Linked DNA regions of Homo sapiens: all the other regions are reported to be linked to region 2. The links are microRNA targets in miRTarBase. Many come from high-throughput screens and were not tested one by one. Region 2 holds a microRNA gene; each other region holds the end of a gene's coding sequence.

Evidence for each region. Region 2 holds the annotated microRNA hsa-miR-3665 (AGCAGGUGCGGGGCGGCG, at 1,537-1,554, opposite strand). A microRNA usually pairs through its seed, bases 2 to 8, with sites in the 3' UTR of a target mRNA and lowers its output. Matches are read on the target gene's strand: a 7mer-m8 pairs with bases 2 to 8, a 7mer-A1 pairs with bases 2 to 7 and ends in A, and an 8mer does both.
Region 1: miRTarBase lists ZFR2 as a target of hsa-miR-3665. Seed matches in the 3' UTR shown: 7mer-m8 at 3,695-3,701.
Region 3: the mRNA of MAPKBP1 is a reported target of hsa-miR-3665. Seed matches in the 3' UTR shown: 7mer-A1 at 2,932-2,938 and 7mer-A1 at 2,410-2,416.
Region 4: miRTarBase lists ZNF641 as a target of hsa-miR-3665. Seed matches in the 3' UTR shown: 7mer-m8 at 2,607-2,613.

Annotation. Positions count from the first base shown.
Region 1 is chr19:3,802,233-3,806,493 of GRCh38, forward strand. ZFR2 (zinc finger RNA binding protein 2) reads right to left here. Exons shown (of 19, transcript NM_015174.2): 19 at 1,792-3,893. The coding sequence ends at 3,717. Among named protein-coding and RNA genes, the nearest start is that of MATK, 18 kb to the left of the region's middle.
Region 2 is chr13:77,696,539-77,700,818 of GRCh38, forward strand. It overlaps MIR3665 (microRNA 3665), which reads right to left and starts at 1,578; the gene lies at 1,474-1,578. SLAIN1 (SLAIN motif family member 1) reads left to right here and starts at 1,149. Exons shown (of 7, transcript NM_001242868.2): 1 at 1,149-2,001. The coding sequence starts at 1,376. RefSeq lists silencers at 907-1,466, 1,667-1,906, 2,067-2,216.
Region 3 is chr15:41,824,548-41,828,827 of GRCh38, reverse strand. It overlaps MAPKBP1 (mitogen-activated protein kinase binding protein 1), which reads right to left. Exons shown (of 31, transcript NM_014994.3): 30 at 4,259-4,280; 31 at 973-3,619. The coding sequence ends at 3,392. JMJD7-PLA2G4B (JMJD7-PLA2G4B readthrough) reads right to left here and starts at 736. Exons shown (of 25, transcript NM_005090.4): 1 at 640-736. The coding sequence starts at 703. JMJD7 (jumonji domain containing 7) reads right to left here and starts at 736. Exons shown (of 8, transcript NM_001114632.2): 1 at 640-736. The coding sequence starts at 703. RefSeq lists a silencer at 759-848 and enhancers at 583-877, 909-1,138, 2,184-3,066.
Region 4 is chr12:48,339,657-48,343,936 of GRCh38, forward strand. It overlaps ZNF641 (zinc finger protein 641), which reads right to left. Exons shown (of 6, transcript NM_001172681.2): 6 at 1-4,071. The coding sequence ends at 3,317. Among named protein-coding and RNA genes, the nearest start is that of ZNF641, 9.1 kb to the right of the region's middle.

The DNA of each region.
Region 1 (4,261 bases), not on the chromosome of region 2:
ATCTCAGTTCACCACAACTTCTGCCTCCCGGGTTCAAGCGATTCTCCTGCCTCAGCCTTCCAAGTAGCTGGGATTACAGGTGCCCGCCACCACACCCAACTAATTTTTGGTATTTTTAGTAGAGACAGGGTTTCACCACGTGGGCCAGGCTGGTCTCGAACTCCTGACCTCAAGTGATCCGCTCGCCTTGGCCTCCCAAAGTGCTGGGATTACAGGCACATGCCACTGCACCCGGCCGACAAATGGTATTCTCATAACCACCAGAAAGAGACACGTCCTCTGGTGTCAGAGCGTGGCTCTGAGCACTGAGACCGACTCAGTTGCTAGCGTCCACCTGGCCTGCCCGAGATCTGGGAATACAGTGGTGATCCAATTGATGGTGAGAGGCTTCCTGACAGGCAGAGAGTTCACATTCTCAAGGGGAAGACAGATACCAAATCGTTTCAAAGATGCATGGTTTAAAGTCAAGGAATAGGCCAGGCGCGGTGGCTCACGCCTATAATCCCAGCACTTTGGGAGGCTGAGGTGGGCGGATCACCTGAGGTCAGGAGTTTGAGACCAGCCTGGCCAACATGGTGAAACCCCGTCTCTACTAAAAATACAAAAAATTAGCTGGGCGTGGTGATGTAGGCCTGTAGTCCCAGCTACTCGGGTGGCTGAGGTGGAATAATCACTGGAACTCAGGAGGCGAGGTTGCAGTGAGCTGAGATCGAGCTGCTGCACTCCAGCCTGGGAGACAGAGACCCTGTCTCAAAAAAAAAAAAAAAAAAAAAAGGTGGAACTGGAATTGACAAGACATCCTCATGGATTGGCCGGGAGCACAGAGGAATCCAGGAGGCCTCCCTGGTTGTGCTGGCTGTCACCTTGAGCCCTGGGCAAATGGCGGTGCTGCTGCCGCGATGCTGACGGAGAGAGGGGCTGTGTGTGGACGGAGTGTGTAGCAAGGGAGTGAAGTTCCCAAGAAATCTGGGATAGAGTGGAAAGCAGGAGAGAGGGTGTGAGGTGGAGGAGGACGGTGGCCTAGAGGCCGCCTGCCCTCCGGGGAGGCTTAACCAGCAATTCCTGTTGCTGACAGATAATCCCTGCTAGAAGGGGACCCCTCGGTGGCTCCCCACCCCCCTCCTTTGGCCTGGGCCTGAAACAGCGGTCCCTGCACACCCAGCCCCTGCCACTCCCGTCCCGCCGCCCCCACCCTGCATCTGCCTCCTCCCCCACCCTGCATCTGCCTCCTCCCCACTCTGCTCCCCGCCTGCCCCCCGTCCCAAACACTGCCAGGGAAGCCCTGTGGGCTGGAAACTGTCACGAAACTCTTCCACTGTGACCAGGTCTCAGCATCTGAACACCCTCCGCCCGCCTTCTGAGGGTTTGGGAATGTGGCGGGGGAAGCACTCTGTGGGCAGAGGCATCTCTCCCAAACTCAGCGTAGTTGCCTCCTCCTCCAGGAAGCCCTCGGGGAGCCTCCAGAGCATCTCACTGTGTGTCTCTAGGATGGGGCCAGGGGAACCCTCAAGGACCGAGGCAGAGAGCTGGGTTATGGGAGGCGTTGAGATGAATGATTCTCAGCCGGTGTGTCTGTGTTCCCAGGGGACCCTTGTGAGGGGACAGCCTGAGGATGCCCACACCTTGGGGAGCAGCCACTGAGCAGTGCCAGCCCCTTGGGCCCCTCCCAGTCCACATTTGGGCTGCAGGGTTTCTGGGAGACCCCCACCCGGGACCCTGAGAAGGAGGTGAAGAGCCCAGCATTTGGGGTCACCTGCACCCCGCAGGAAGGACGGCACGGCTCACACAAAAGACAAATGATTTCCTTTATTCCCCCTGCCTCCCAATTTCCAGGTAGCTCTACAAAGACATTCAGACAGAGCCACATGCAGGCTGTCCTTCAAACACAGAGAAACAAAACTGAGCCACTGGCTGGAGATCACATCTGCCCAAAGGTGGACTTTTCTCATTCAATGCCACTGGGCAGCTGGCCAAAGAAAAAAAAACTGACCAAGCGGAAGGTTTGAACAGGTTGGGGTGGGGACTCAGAAGGGGGTGCCCCCACATCCATCAGTGCCAGGAGGCGCCTGCCCACCATGGCCAGCATCCACAAGACGGCGGCCCCTCCCCGGGTCCCCCAGGCACGGGTCCCGGGCCCTGCTACCACAAGGGGGGATTGGGGACCCCCTGCCTCAGGGCCAGCCAAGGCCTACATCAGGGAGAGAGGGAGGAAGGAAGGACGGAAGCTCAAATCCAGGCCTCAGTGACACATGGCAGAGTGGGTTTTCTCTGTGAAAGGCACTCAGTGGTACAGGGCTCGGGGCGGGGGGTGGGTGGGGGTGCCTCTGGGCTCCGGGTCTGACTGTCCAGCACAGCTGTTCCCGGGGGAGGCCCAGCCAGGATCCTCATCGCCCGTCGGCGTGTCCACCTGGCCCTGTGGCTCTCCCCACAGGGGACGAGCCTGGCTCAGGCCCTGCTGACATCCTGGCTGTGGAGGTGGGTGGGGGGTCTGTTTGGAGCAGGCTGGGCTGGGGGCGTGGGGATGCCGGCTGGGAGCTCCCCTGGGCTTGTCCTGCACATGTGGTGGGGCCCCAGAACAGGGCCTGCCCACGTGATTTCAAATCCATGCCGCAGCCGCATCCAAAGAAAGTTTTGTTTGTTTGTTTGTTTGTTTGTTTGTTTCTTTGAGACAGGGTCTCGCTCTGTAACCCAGGCTGGAGTTCAGTAGCGCAATCTCGGCTCGCTGCAGCCTCGAACTCCTGGGCTCAAGGGATCCTACGGCCTCAGCCTCCCGAGTAGCTGGGACTACAGGCTTGGGCCACCACAACTGGCTAATTTTTTGTAGAGATGGGGTGTCACCATATTGCCCAGACTGATCTTAAACCGCTGGGCTCAAGCGATCCACCAAGCTTGGCCTCCCAAAGTGCTGGGATTATAGGTGTGAGCCACCATGCGCAGCCCAGAGGAAGTATTTTAAAACCCCTTCCTGTACCACGAGGTGAGTTTAGAGCCAGCAAGATGCCCCCGAGTTTAGAATCTGCTTGCTGTACTGCTGGCCCCCCTGGCTGTGGGGGATGGGGCCCTCGAGGAAGGGGTGCCACTCCCAGGGCTGGATGGTGTCATTTCTGTAACAATTTAAGCACAAATGTTAAAAAACATTTCTTTTAAGTGACAAAGTCTTCTTCTGTTGCCCAGGCTGGAGTGTCACGGTGCAATCACAGCTCACTGCCCTCCTGGCCTCAAGGCTCCGGACTCAGCCTCCCAAGTAGCTGGGACTACAGGTGCACACCACCACGCCAGGCTAATTGTTGTGTTTTTTACTAGAGACAGGGTTTCACCATGTTGACCAGGCCGGTCTCGAACTCCTGACCTCAGGCGATCTGCCCACCTCGGCCTCTCAAAGTGCTGGGATTACAGGCGTGAATCACCGCGCCTGGCCACCAACCATGCCAAGCTGATTTTTAAAAATATTTTGGAGAGATGGGGGTCTCACTCTGTTGTCTGGGCTGGCCTTGAACTCTCAGGCTCAAGCAACTCAGCCTCCCAAAGTGCTGGGATTAAAGGCATGAGCCACAGTGCCCGGTCTGAAGCACAGGTGTTTTAAAGGAAACCTACAGAGCGTTACTCAAAAGGAAATGACCATTGTCCAACGTCGGGGATGAAGCAGCCATTGGTCGGCGCGCACACGTCCAGGAGTGCAGGGATGCAAAGGCCCGCAGGTGGGGGAGGTAGGCGGCTCACACGAGCCCCTCTCCGCCCCGCCGGCCCCGCTTCTTCTCCCCTGCGCCCTCCTCTCCCTCGCCAGGTCCCCGTTGCCTCTTCCGGAAGCGGGCCCCCAGCCGGTGTCTGGGCGGCAGGAGATCCATGCCCAGGACCTTGTGGGTCTGCCGGAAGGCCAGCATTCGCAGGGCGTGCTGCGGGGCACACACAGCCTGTCAGGACCCCCGCCCGCTCTGCTCCCCGAGTGCTGGGGACACAGAGGGGCTGGTGTCTGTGGCCACCAGCAGATGGGCCAGGCCTATCCTGTATCCCTCGAGATAGCCCCCGGCCCCCCGCCGCTTTCTTTTTTGAGACACAGTCTCGCTCTGTCACCCAGGCTGGAGTGCAGTGGCGCGATCTCAGCTCATTGCAACCACCGCCTCCCAGGTTCAAGTGATTCTCCTGCCTCAGCCTCCCAAGTAGCTGGGATTACAGGCGTGTGCCACCACGCCCAGCTAATTTTGTATTTTTAGTAGAGACAGGGTTTCACCATGTTGGCCAGGCTGGTCTCGAACTCCTGACC
Region 2 (4,280 bases):
CTGAGGATGAGAACCAGTGGTGTAGATTTTTCTCATAATATAATCTCAGGTTTTCCTCTGATTGTGTTAAACACTCAAAATGCTAAGTCAGTCAGTATTCATTGAACACAACTCGATTAAATTCTTCTGCTTAAAAGCCTCTTTTAAAAAAAGCAGATTTGCTCGTTTTCCAAGTGGTAAGAAATAGCAGGTTTGCAGGTGAGATTAAAGTGTATTGGGTAGAATTCTGAGGTTTTCTGTTTTCTGCTTTCCCACCAGCAAGTCTGACTTTAATAACTTACACATTATTTAATAGAAGGAGCACTAAACAATTTTACTCATATTTCTCCCCATAACCATTTTTGCCTATTGTACTCATTGCCCGCATCACGAGCTCTTAGAATGGTTCCTGGCACAGAGTAGGTGCTCAAAGATCTTTTGTTTGGGGAATGCATGAATATACATAGTATGAAAAAAAAAGCAGTTCTTCTTTTATTGTGACAAACAATGATGGTAACAGTTCAAATTTGACTATTTTAGAATAAATAAGTAAACACTTGTCTCCTTAGCAGCTGGCCACTCTACCTCTTAGAGAGAGGGCTTTCTTCTCTTTCTTCTCGGTCTCCTGTCTCCCACCATTTTGCTTCTCTATTACCAATGAGAACATGAGTGGCATGGTCCCAAAGCCTTTCTGTTCCCCCTATCTCCACTTTTCGGTTTTTAGAATAACGATCCCCAGCCTTTAAGTTTTCTATAGGATTCGTTAGCCAGTGGCTATTAAGTGCTGTCACGGAGCCTAACAGAGAGCTGGGAAGGGAGCAAACCAGCGGGCCGGTGGTGCACTACTCGAGGGCCAGCACCTGCAGCTGCTTCTTTGGGAACCCCCTGGTCCCCGCAACCGCCTCAGAGACCCGCGCAGTTCACTGTCCCACCAAGCGGCAGGAGGAGGTGCTTGTGGCGGGAAAGTTCAGGCCAGGTCCAATCAGGCCCCTGGGATTAGGTAGCGAGGGTGGGTGCGGCTCCCCGGCCCCAACCCGGGCTGCCGGCCCCGCCCCCTGGGTGGGCTTCCCCACGGTTCTCCGCCCCCCCCCCCCCACCCGCCCCCTCGGCGCTCTTGCCCCGCCCCGCTCCGGGGCCGCGGCTAAAACCCGGAGCCGCCGCGACGCCCAGGGGACTGGAGGGACGCACTGAGCATGTGCAGATCAGCTCGGTGGTGGCTGCCGCGGCCGGAGGCGAGGGCCCGGTGCTGATGCGAACCGCCGGCTCGGCCTCAGCCCGCGCGTGGTCGGCCCCCCAGGCCGGGGCGACAGGGAAGGAGCCGTAGCCTCCCCGTGGCCCGAGGAGCCGGCGCGGCGGCGCGCACTCCCCGGCGGCCGCGGCGCCCTCGGGGCCCACGATGATGGCGGAGCAGGTGAAATGCGCCTCGGCAGGGGTCAGCTCTGGAGCGGGCTCCGGGCCGGTGGTGAACGCGGAGCTGGAGGTGAAGAAGCTGCAGGAGCTGGTGCGCAAGCTGGAGAAGCAGAACGAGCAGCTGCGGAGTCGAGCGGCCAGCGCGGCCGCCGCCCCGCACCTGCTGCTGCTGCCGCCGCCGCCGCCCGCCGCGCCGCCCCCCGCTGGCCTGCAGCCTTTGGGTCCTCGGAGCCCCCCGGCCGCCACGGCCACCGCCGCGGCCTCAGGGGGCCTGGGGCTCGGGCTGGCGCTGGGCGCGGGGGGCGGTGGCGGCAGCGGTAGTGGCAGCGGCGGTGGCTCCAGCCCCGCGTTCCCGGGCACCTTCTGCCTGCCTAGCCCCGCGCCCTCCCTGCTTTGCAGCCTGGCGCAGCCACCCGAGGCGCCCTTCGTCTACTTCAAGCCGGCAGCAGGCTTCTTCGGCGCGGGCGGTGGCGGGCCGGAGCCGGGGGGCGCGGGGACGCCGCCAGGGGCAGCTGCAGCGCCGCCCTCGCCGCCCCCCACGCTGCTGGACGAGGTGGAATTGCTGGATCTGGAGAGCGTAGCCGCCTGGCGGGACGAGGACGACTACACCTGGTACTGCCTGGCTCCGCTCCTTCCCCGAGACCCTGGCCTCGGGGGCTTCGGGCACCGGGGAGCGGGGGCGGGGGGCGGACGGGGGTCCCCTCGCGGCAGCCGGGGTGACTCCCCGCGGCTCCCGGAGGGGCCGACCCAGCAGGTGTTGAGCCAGGCGGTGACACTTCCCACGATGAGGCTTCTCATGAAGGCAGAAACCTGTTTTCTAATCGCTCCGACTGCGGATGAACCGGCCCCCCCTTCCCCCCATCTGCCATGGGTTCTGCTATTTGCTGATTGTTGGGTCCCAAGCTCCTCGTTAGCATTAAGTGCAAAATCCATGTCATCTTGTCTTTTTGCTCAGTGCTGCTCTTTTCCCCAGTGTTTTCGGAGGGATGACGGGGGATGGTAGGGGTTGGCCTCTGTCTGCGACTGTTACTGTTCTTTCGTTTTAAACGAACGCTGGACAGGATTTGCGTGCTCTTCCTCCTCGGGTGGCATCGGAAGCCGCGCAGTGATGGATCTCTCTTTATAGAGAGGTTCGTTCTTGCTGTTTGAATTTTGCAGTCGTGTGCCCTTTTGCGTTGCATTTTCATTGAAATCTTATTTTCAGAGACTGACTTGCTTTTTAAAATGGGGTGACCTCACTGGCTTTCCCATAAATAGTGCCAATAAAGAGGACTTTTCTTGGAGTGGAATGAACAGGTGGGAGGGACTTTTTTATTTATTTATTTATTTTTTTACCTAGGAACCAACGAACTGTCTTTAATTTTTTAAATTAAACTGTAGAAGAAAAGTGAGATTAGAGAAGCCTTATTTTCTTATTTCTTGGAAACTTTTTAGCTTGGTTATCAGAAAACTTGAGGCTGACAGCATTTATTCAGTTGACATCTGGTTAGCACTGTCTACTTTCCATGAATGAGTAACTTTAGGGGGAGGCTTGCTGTAGTCCTTCTTTACTTTAGGTCCTTTTTATGTAGGACCCTTTCTGTTTTTCCAAGCTGTGTTTTCATTACTTTCTTTGTGTCTCTGTTGCATGATTGCATGGAAGGGATTGGGAAATGGAGATCCTTACTGGTTTCCTATTGGGAACTGCAGTGTTCCTTTTCCCTTACACTCTGTCATGTGAGAGCTCTAACTGTAAAGTACATTAGTTAATTGGTTTCATTCAAGAATCAAAATATATGGAGTTACAGTAAGCCTTTCAGAGGTGTATTCATCATCCACCTTAATACTTTTTGGCAGCTGTGCAGGTAGCTCAAGGTGTAAAAAAATCAAACAACTCATCACTTTTGGGAACTTTAAGCCATTTTTTCAAAGCTGCACCCTTATTTCTGTAAAGTAATCTCAGTTTCAGTCTGAATGTGGTACTAGAAAATGCTCTCATGATGGTCCTTAGATTTCACTAATAACTCTCAGCCCTTATGCCACTTTCAAATTATTTTAGGTTGATTTAGTCCCTACTTAGCCTTTTCTGATGGTATGTATGTAAACAGTGGAAGGAAACTTGTTTACATTTTTGATGGGGAGATATATGGGATCAGTTTTATGCTTAAAATATTTGCATTTTAAAATTTATTGTGATATTGTTTGTAAATATGAGATTAGTAATCTATTAATAACTTTCCTTCTTTTGAATGGATTTCTGTCATATTTAGTTAGCATCCTATTACTAGCATTTTGGTACCTAGGCTTTCTTTTTATAGTTTAATTTTGTCCAAATAGCATTGAAATAATCAACTTTAACAGAAATCACCCACTTAGTGGTATTAGTATATTAGCTCTTCAGATGGTTTGAAGCAAATCAAAGTTGAAGCAGGTTCTATTTCATTCAACAAGTACACAGGTGAATAAATCAAAGCCTTGATGCTTTACAAATGTTTCTAGAGACAAATGGCAGAGAATCTTCCTGAAAACAAGCCTGAGATTAGAATTCCAGGTGGAAAAACAAGGAGGGTTCATTAATCTTAGTGGGATGGTCTTAAAAATTTTAAAGTTACCTGATTTACATAATTTTATTATTACATTTTATGCATCAAGATTTTGTTTGCATTGCAAATCTTTTTGATGAAGAAAATATCAACAGGGTTTAATTTTTAAAGTTTAACCCACTTGTTAATGCTTGCAAAGCACTCTGTTCCTTTATCACTGCAGACTATAGTGTCCCAGTAGTGTGGTCTCAGAAATAAGAGTGCTGTTCATTTGGTTCCCTGATATGTTTGCAGGATGGCAACTTATTTTTATTTCCTGTGTTTATTAAGAAACAACTGGAGTGGGTATATAGTACCTTATTTTAAAAA
Region 3 (4,280 bases), not on the chromosome of region 2:
AAGGGTAAAAAGTCGTGTGTGCACGGATATAAACAATCTTTCTGTAAGAATGCAAACTGGGGCTGGGAGGAAACCTTGCTTCATTTACATTGCGTACCACTGTATATTACATACCCATCACATACACATGAGCCTGTGTTGCTGTTCAGTGGTAAGAAATCATTTAAAAATAGAAAAAAGAAGGAAGGAGGGAAGAGAGAAAGAAAGAAAAGGAATAAAAACCAAGCAGGGGAAGAGCCAGGGACCATTTGGTCAGCCTGCAATCCTCCCAAAGTGCGACAAGGGAGTTGAGGTCGGAGGTGGGGCGCGTGGGGGAGGAATCCGACCACCAGCTGTGTGCCTTCGATGAGCTTTCAACAAGGGTAACAGCAAGCTGCTCAAGACTGTAGGAAACACAGGGCTTCGCCGCGACCACGGTCAAGACGGCACCGGGCCTTGGGAACAACGTGAACAGAATCACCCAGGAAGCCGCGGGAGCGCGCGAACACGGGAGAAGGGAAGCAGGTTGCCACAGAAGAGCAACCCGAGCGGGGCCTCAGGGCAGTCGCACACACGAGGTTCCGAGCCCCCGGTGTCAGCGGCATCCCAGGGCCCCTCCCGTGTTCGGAAATCGCCGCAGCCTGTGGGAGAGCCACTCACCCCTTGCAGCGGCCGGGAATTCTCGTAACTCGCTCCGCACGGCTTCCAAAGCCGCCTCCGCCATGGCTGCGTCAGCGCCGGCCGAGACCCCGCCTTTCCCCGACGCCCCGCCGCAGGCCACACCCCAAGCACTCGCCCCGCCCTCCCCAGAGTCCCCGCCGCAGGCCACACCCCCAGACCCTCGCCCCGCCCTTCCAGAGGCACCCGCCGCAGGCCACACCCCCAGCACCCCGCCCCGTCCTGCCCCTGGACACACACCGGGTTCTGCCACCGAAGCGGTGGAGCGACTGGCAGCGCCCGCTTCGGCCTGCCCCACTGGCCGGCATCCCAGGGTTAACAAACAATTGTGTTTATTGACAAGTTCATACATCAGTACAAACGGGCACGTTAAAAACAGCGCCCCCGCCCCATGCAGCCGAGGATGAGGCAGGAAGCGCCGCGACCTGCACAAAGTATAAAAGTTATAAATAAGGGGCTTTCAAAACAAGGCGGGGGCAAATCTGGAGTGGGGCGGCGGTTGCCGGTGGCCTCAGACATGCAGAAGGGGACGGGGCGCCGGCCGGGCCACGAGGCCCCCCACCCACATGGGGCAGAGGGCAGGAAAAGGGCGGCCACATTCTCACAAACTTCTGGCGAAGGGTAGCTCCCTCCTCGTGAAGGACCTGGCCCAGAGGGCGAACCTGAGTCCCACCTGCGGTGGGCGCGGCTGGTGTGGGAAGTCGGGGCACAGCAGGCACGGGCCCGCCCCCGCCGCCGCGGGAGTTCCAGGGCCATGCGGGTGGCGATGCTAGAGGAGTGGGGAAGGGCCAGGTTTGGAGCAGCTCAAGCGCACTCAGGCTGATGCCCCGGAGCTGGGAACCTTTTGTAACCCTTTTTCTTTTTTTTTTTTGAGATGGCGTGTAGCTTTGTCACCTAGGTTGGAGTGCAATGGCGCGATCTCGGCTCACTGCAACCTCCACCTCCACCTCCAGGGTTCAAGCGATTCTCCTGCCTAAACCTCCCGAGTAGCTGGGATTACAGGCGCCCACCACCACGCCCAGCTAATTTTTTTATTTTTAGTAGACAGGGTTTCACCATGTTGGCCAGGCTGATCTCGAACTCCTAACCTCAGGTGATCCACCCGCCTCGGCCTCCCAAAGTGCTGGGATTACAGGCTTGAGCCACCACACCTGGCCCAGAACCCATTTCTTTATAAGCCTCTGCCTATGGCGCAGCAGGGCGGGTGAAGGGGCTCTCGTGGCCTGAAGCTGTGGTAAAGCTGCTCTGACTTACCTGCAGCAGAGGGGAGCAGTAGGGCCCAGAAAAACCTTTCCTCAACTCTTCAACTGCCTCACGACATGGTCCCACTCTACCTCCTAGGGTCCCCTATCTCCTTTCCCTCACCCCTAATTACTGCCCTTTTACATTCTAACTTATCCCCTCACCTCTGCCACTTACCTGTCCCATCTACCACTTTTCTAGTGTCTCCTTTGGCCCCAGCACCTCCCTCCTCTCAAACTCCAGTATCCAGCACACCCGTGGGTGCCCAGCACTGCCTTTGAGGAGGCTCCTTCTACCTAAACCAGGTGTCCTATGGGCTATCTCGTATCAGCTAGGCTGTGGACACCAAGAATCCAGAATCTGGGTTCACTTAGTGTACTGCACCCCTTTTCTGCTCCCTGATAGGTGTTCCACATAAGCCAGGGTGGTGAAGCTGAGGCAGGATGTGAGGAAACCAGGCACACAGCAGCCAGCCAGATACTCTAGCAACCAACACTCAACAGCGTGCTGTGCAGGTAGGTGTGTGTGTGTACATGTGTGCACGTGCATGCGTGTGATCTCATCTGTGGCTGAGGTCCTCAGGAGGTAGGCCAGCGCCCCGTAAACGAGGGATGTTCCAACACAGGCTTCTGACTAAGCATCATTCAGGATGCAGGGAGAAGGTGGCCTCTGGGCTCCAGCAGCCGGCTGGGGTCCAGGGTGGAGGACAGGGAAGAACAAGGGGCTGAGGAAAGGAGGCCAGAGCTTCATGTTTGCCCAGGTGAGGGCTTACTGTCCTGCAGCAACATCCCACAGCTGGCTCAAGTTCTGGCCAGGAGAGTAAGGGGTCACAGGGAAATACAATGCTGGGCCCCTCTTGGAGGGAGAATGGGAGTGGAATGTGCGGGCTCAGGTCCAAATACCAACTCAAGTCTCCTGATGGCTGGGGACACCCTGGAGGGCCAGATGGCTCTGCCTTTCTGAGCTCCAGGTATTGGGGAAAACCACCCTGCTCTGGCAGCCACGGGAGTGCAGCTGGTGTGAGAGGGGAAGTGCAGGTAGAGGTGAAGGCCCACAGTTGGCTGACGGGCACTGAATACCACATCACCTCTCACCTCGACCCCAGAGTACCCTGTGTATGCTCCACCACAGGGAGCTAATCCCTGCAGTAATTTCAAATGGCTTCTAAGAGAGGGCCAGCCCTTCCCAGATTCCTAGATGGGGCAGGCTGCCCTCCTACCTCTCACAGCACCAAGATGACAAAGACCCAAGACCTGTCCCTGCCACTGGAGGGGCTGTGGAGGCAGGAGTTCCAAGGAAGTGAGGCAACAGTCAGGGAAATAAATTAATAAATACAGGCCCCCCACGAGGAGCGGCTGGGAAGGCTGCTTTGCCTCTGAACACTGCTCCCTGCTTTCCACTCCAAGCAGCCCCGCAGGTTTTGGTGAGGGGCAGAGGGGCTGCAGTTTGGAATCGCTGGAGCATTCATTCACTTGGGACAGGCTTCCAGAACTCAGAGTTTGCGTTCCATACGCCGTTCCACGGCTCGAAGCAACAGTTCTGAGTATTGCTCCAGCAGGGCCTGTGTCTGCTCGGCTCCCACAGCCCCAGGGCTGCTGCCTGGGCTGGACAGCACTGCCCCAGCCACAGCTTCCAGCTCCTGTCGCACTGAAGAGAAGGTGTCTCTGAGGAGCTGGGCAATCCGACTTTGCTCTGCTGAGGGCATCTTGCAGCCAGCCACCTGAAATAGCACCCCCAGAAGTGAGGTGGAGGAGCCTGTCAACAGACATATAAAAGGGAGGGGCCCCACCTGGGTCCAGCCTGCCTCAGAAGGGACTAGCTGGGAACTCTACCCGCCAAGATCAGCATGTATGGCCAGGGAACATGGGATGCAGGCAGACTCTGGGGGTGACGCCCAAGGAGGAACCCATTGGATTGCAGAACCGTCTACATCTTATAAGCAACTCCTTATGACAACTCCGGCAGAATCTGCTTTCTCTTTCAAAGTTTGGGCCTTCTTGGACTGTCCCCTATGTCTAAGGGGGCCAAATAATTCATGGATATGAAAAAGGATGCCATTAATAATTACACTGGGACAACGACATAAACTGGGATTGTCCTGAGCCAACTAGGAGGTGTGGTCTCTTCAGGCCTCACCTCCTGAGGGAAGTCTCCAGCTCTTAACCAGAAATGACCGCAGGTGCCCGGTACAAGAGGCTAGCCTGGCCTCTAACCCCCTCACCTATGCTGCCCAAGATGTTCTTGAGTGTGCCATCCTGTCAGCACAAGAGGCTTAGCATACTGTTCTGGACATGGTTATCCGAAACACCCAGCACTACTGACGTGCCCGCCTTCCTGCCGGGGGGCACCTAACACCCACCGAGTGGTAGAGCCGCACTGCC
Region 4 (4,280 bases), not on the chromosome of region 2:
GCCTTCTGGCCTTTGTAGGTCTGAGTCAGGACCTGCCCTTGATGGAAATAGGAAACAGTGATTTGATTGCAGGAATGTTGGAAAGGGAGGAATTTTGTCCCAAATTATCACCTCTTTGGTTCTCTGAAGCCATAACATTACTTTGACAAGGGAAAAGTTTTTCCTTCCACAATTAGAACTAAGGCGTAAAGTGTAAATAGCCTGGTGAAAAGCTAACACTTTCGGTTACAGTCTCCTATGCAAGGGATTCTTTGAAAGATACTATGTTGGGGTGGAAAGGGGAGGATACTCAGAATAGGGTGGAGGTACCAGATGGAAAAATGTGACAGGTTCCTGAAGATGATATCCCTGTTTTACATTTTGCCCAAAGAGAACACAGAGATTCTTTTTATTTAAAGGGGACGGGGTGAAACATGAACATTTGAGGCTGATTCCCTGTGGGAAAAATCATTCAAATCTATTCACTCATCTGATGGCTGTTGCTTGTTTTATTTTTTGTCCAAGAGAGGTGGTGTTGGACCGAGGTAGAGAAGACAGTGGTACACCAGAAATAACCCAAAGGATTGCCCCTTCTGTAGAAGGCCCTTAGACTCCATGATGCCTTTCAGCTGGGTGCTATACTTGCACCTAACTCTGGGGGCTTCACTTTCTATCCCTACAATTACTCAAACAGATAAAAGGCTGGATGTTAACATGTAGTTATAAGGGGCGTGATCTAATAGTAAGGAATATCACTTCCCACAAGTCCTTCAAACAAGATTTGTGAGGAGCTGGATTTGTCAGCATGTCAGATCTTTTTGAAAACCAGAGAGTAGAATGTAAGCAATACCCTTGTCGTAATTAAAGACCAGACTCCATCCTTATACCACTGATGCCTCTGGTACCTTAATCCTTAAAATATTTAGTGACCCTTGCCTTCTAATTCTTGACACAAATATATAATGACCATTTTAGATCGGGGAACTCCCTTTCTTTGAAGGCAGTTTAGGGATTCCACAGATGGGCTTTGAACCTGCTAAATGTGTATGGAAAACTGAGTGAATTACAAATGTCTTTTTCTCAAAAGTGCGTTTCTGGTTTCTGTCAGATTCAACAGGTCTGTACCCAAGACAGGTTCTGAACCATTGCTTATGCAGAGCTTTTAGTATTAAAGAGGGAGAGTAAAAGAAATGTCAGAGTCCAGATTTATCACTGAACCCAATACTTTCTTACTCCCTGGGGCATCTCCTAATACTGATCCTAAAATGCTCCTGTTTCTGAGAAGCTAGGGCAAGACCTGCCTTACAAAGACCAGCCATTTTGCCTTATTCATAGGATCATAAGCAAGAGAACTGCATTCCAGGAAGAATGAAGGAAGAAGGAAGGCTGCTCACAGTAGCAGAAGGGAGGCAGGGGCCAAGCTGTTCAAGTCACATAAACTCTAAGAAGCCCAGTCAGCAAAATAAGTCTATCTTCAATTCTAGTTGAGTCCAGGACTCTGAGGAGCTGTGATTCACCCAGTTTTTCCTGCAAAAGGCACAGTCGCTAAACTAAATTGGTGCAATTCACTTCCTCTTGCCTCTCTGGTTCATTCCACCAATTGTGGTTGAGAAACACATCTTAGGGAAGAAACAGTATCTAAGCATTAAAGAGAAAATATCCCACTTTGCTCCTCTTCCTCCCTAACCCCGAACTGCTCTTACATACAAGATAATTTTTAAATTATAAGATTGGTATTAACACAATTATTGATAAAGAGAAACAATGACCAACTCATTAGCTAACGATGCTAGAATACTTATGCAAGCCCTAGAGTTAAGGGTCTTAGTGTGGACACCTTTCCAGAATTGGAAGGAAAACCAACCAGAAAGCTTATTACCCTGCAGCAGCTGAAAAGCTAAGCCACAGCCATTTTCCCTAAAGTTCTGTTTCTGGGAGAATGAGATCTTCAAGAATAACTCTTGCCCCTTGATGAGGCAGTCAAATTCAAACCAGTGATGGCAACAACTTGCAAACACGTAATTCCTGCCCTAATTTTCCAGCACTTAAAACAAAATCCCCACTCAATACAAAGTTTCTATGTGCCTCTTGCCTGAAATCAACAAGAAACAGCTCACCTCCCCAAAGACTCCTCTTTCTCTGCCAGGGCAAAAGCAATCTGCAGCCCAGAGATTCAAACCTAGACATACACATCCACAATTGTCTTAATCTCAGCAGTACTGGGAAAGCTTTGTACTCAACTTAACCTGTCATTTAACCCTTTCCACTAGTTCTCCCTTAACCAGACTGCTTCCTGTCTTGAAACAAAGAAAAAACCCCATATAATCCCCACTACCCTCATCCCCAGAACACAGCCCCTAGAAAACCTAGCTTGTACAGTTTGCACATAGCATGCTGTCTTCAAAGACCCTGCACACAAATACACAGACACATAAAGACAGTCAAGAGGAGAGAGGGGACTGTTCAAGGGGATAAAGTTTTTTTTGTTTTTCTGTTTTTCTGTGTGGGCCAGGGCTATTTGGGGGTATTAGATCATCTCTTAGCCTTGTAGTGTGATCTCTCAGCTGGATATATGTATGTGCAGGATGAAGGGAGTAGGAATAATGGGTAAAAAGGTTATTTTTTCAGCAGGTGAGGGTGAGAGGTGATGTATATACTGCTGATTGGCATAAGGAAGACAGACCCACACATGAACAAGGTCTGGCCCCCCTGGCTTTCATATGGATAAAAAAGGGGGCTCTGGATGCCTGATCACTATCTCTTGTTTCCTTGTTACTCTCTAACCCAGTGTTCACCAGAGTGTTTCATAGTCACCAGTTCTGTGGGATGTAAATAGAAAGGATACTGAGGTCAAATACATTTAGGAAACACTGCCTTAATAGAACCTTCAGTTGGGTCTACTGCAGAAATTTTCAGAGCCTTTAATATTCTAAAATGGCCTTTCTGTCTATATATAGAGAAAATATAATAGTAACAGTATGCAAGAGTGATACTCAAAATGTTTAACAACTGGTATAGCATAGACTCCAACCAATCAGAATGGATTTCAGCCATAAACTGCCAGTACCACTCTCCTCTTGAGAACAGCTCAGGCTGAATATCAGCCCATGTAGGATGCATTGCTTCCCAAAAGTTTTGCCCAAAGAACTCTATTTTTATGTGCTATCTCACAGAACTGGTGAGAAATGCTCTGGCCATTGCTGGGACCTCATCTTTCTAGGGATGGGGTCAGGGCTTATGATTCTGGCCACTGGGGTTCAGGAGAACGGCAGCCCTGGCAGTGACTCCTGGTAGCACCGGCTGATAGACTTGACCATAGCTGTAGTGGAAACAGATTTCAAAAGACAGATGTTCCTCTGTCCCAGCTGTTCCGGGGACTTTGTCCCTGGTGGGTGAGCAGGTGCCTGTCCAGGTGATGTTTTCGGCCAAAGCTCTTCTCACAGCGAGGGCACTGGAAGGGCTTCTCCCCAGTGTGGGTCAGCCAGTGTCTCACAAGGTGGTGCCTTCGGCCAAAGCTCTTCCCACATTCAGTGCACACGTGACACTTTGGCACTGGTGGGGCACGCTGCCGTTTCCTTGTGCCAGGGCTCTCTCCAACCTCTTGGCCTTTGCAGGATTTGCCTTCTGCATGCACTCTCTGGTGGCTGGCCAGATGGGAGTTGCATCGGAAATTCTTACCACACTCAGAGCACCTGCTGGTCTTGTCATGTAGGTGGGTTTTCTGGTGCCTGATGAGGTGATGTCTTCGCCCAAAGGTCTTCTCACACTTGAGGCAGCTGTAGGGTCTCTCCCCAGTGTGTGTTTGTTGATGCCTGGCAAGGTGGGAACCCCATACAAACTGTTTCCCACACTGGGGGCATGTGTGGGGTCTTAACAGGGAATCCATCTCTGTGCTACACAGCAGGTTTGAGAAACTATCTTCCTGAAGAAAAGGGGGCCCCAGGAGCATTCCTCTGGAGCTGCTGGGCATGGAATCCCAGCTCTCATCATGCTCCGGGTTCCAGAGAACAGTATCTTCAGACACGCTGGATAACATTCTGGGAGGTTCTGCTTCTAGTTCAGGGGTATCCCCCTCATGTTCACTTCCATCTCCTGCGGAGAAGGGGAAATACCAACCCCAAGAGAAGAGTCACAAGAGAGTGCTTGAGGCCTAAGTCACAAATGAGGTTGTCTGATACCTGCCAGGGCCCAGACTTGACCCCAGAAGGGCTGAGAGAACATAGTCTAATGTCGTACAAGACAGTGCAATAGATATAGAGGTTAAAAGCCTAGGCTTAGGAGGCAGATTACCTAAGATGGAA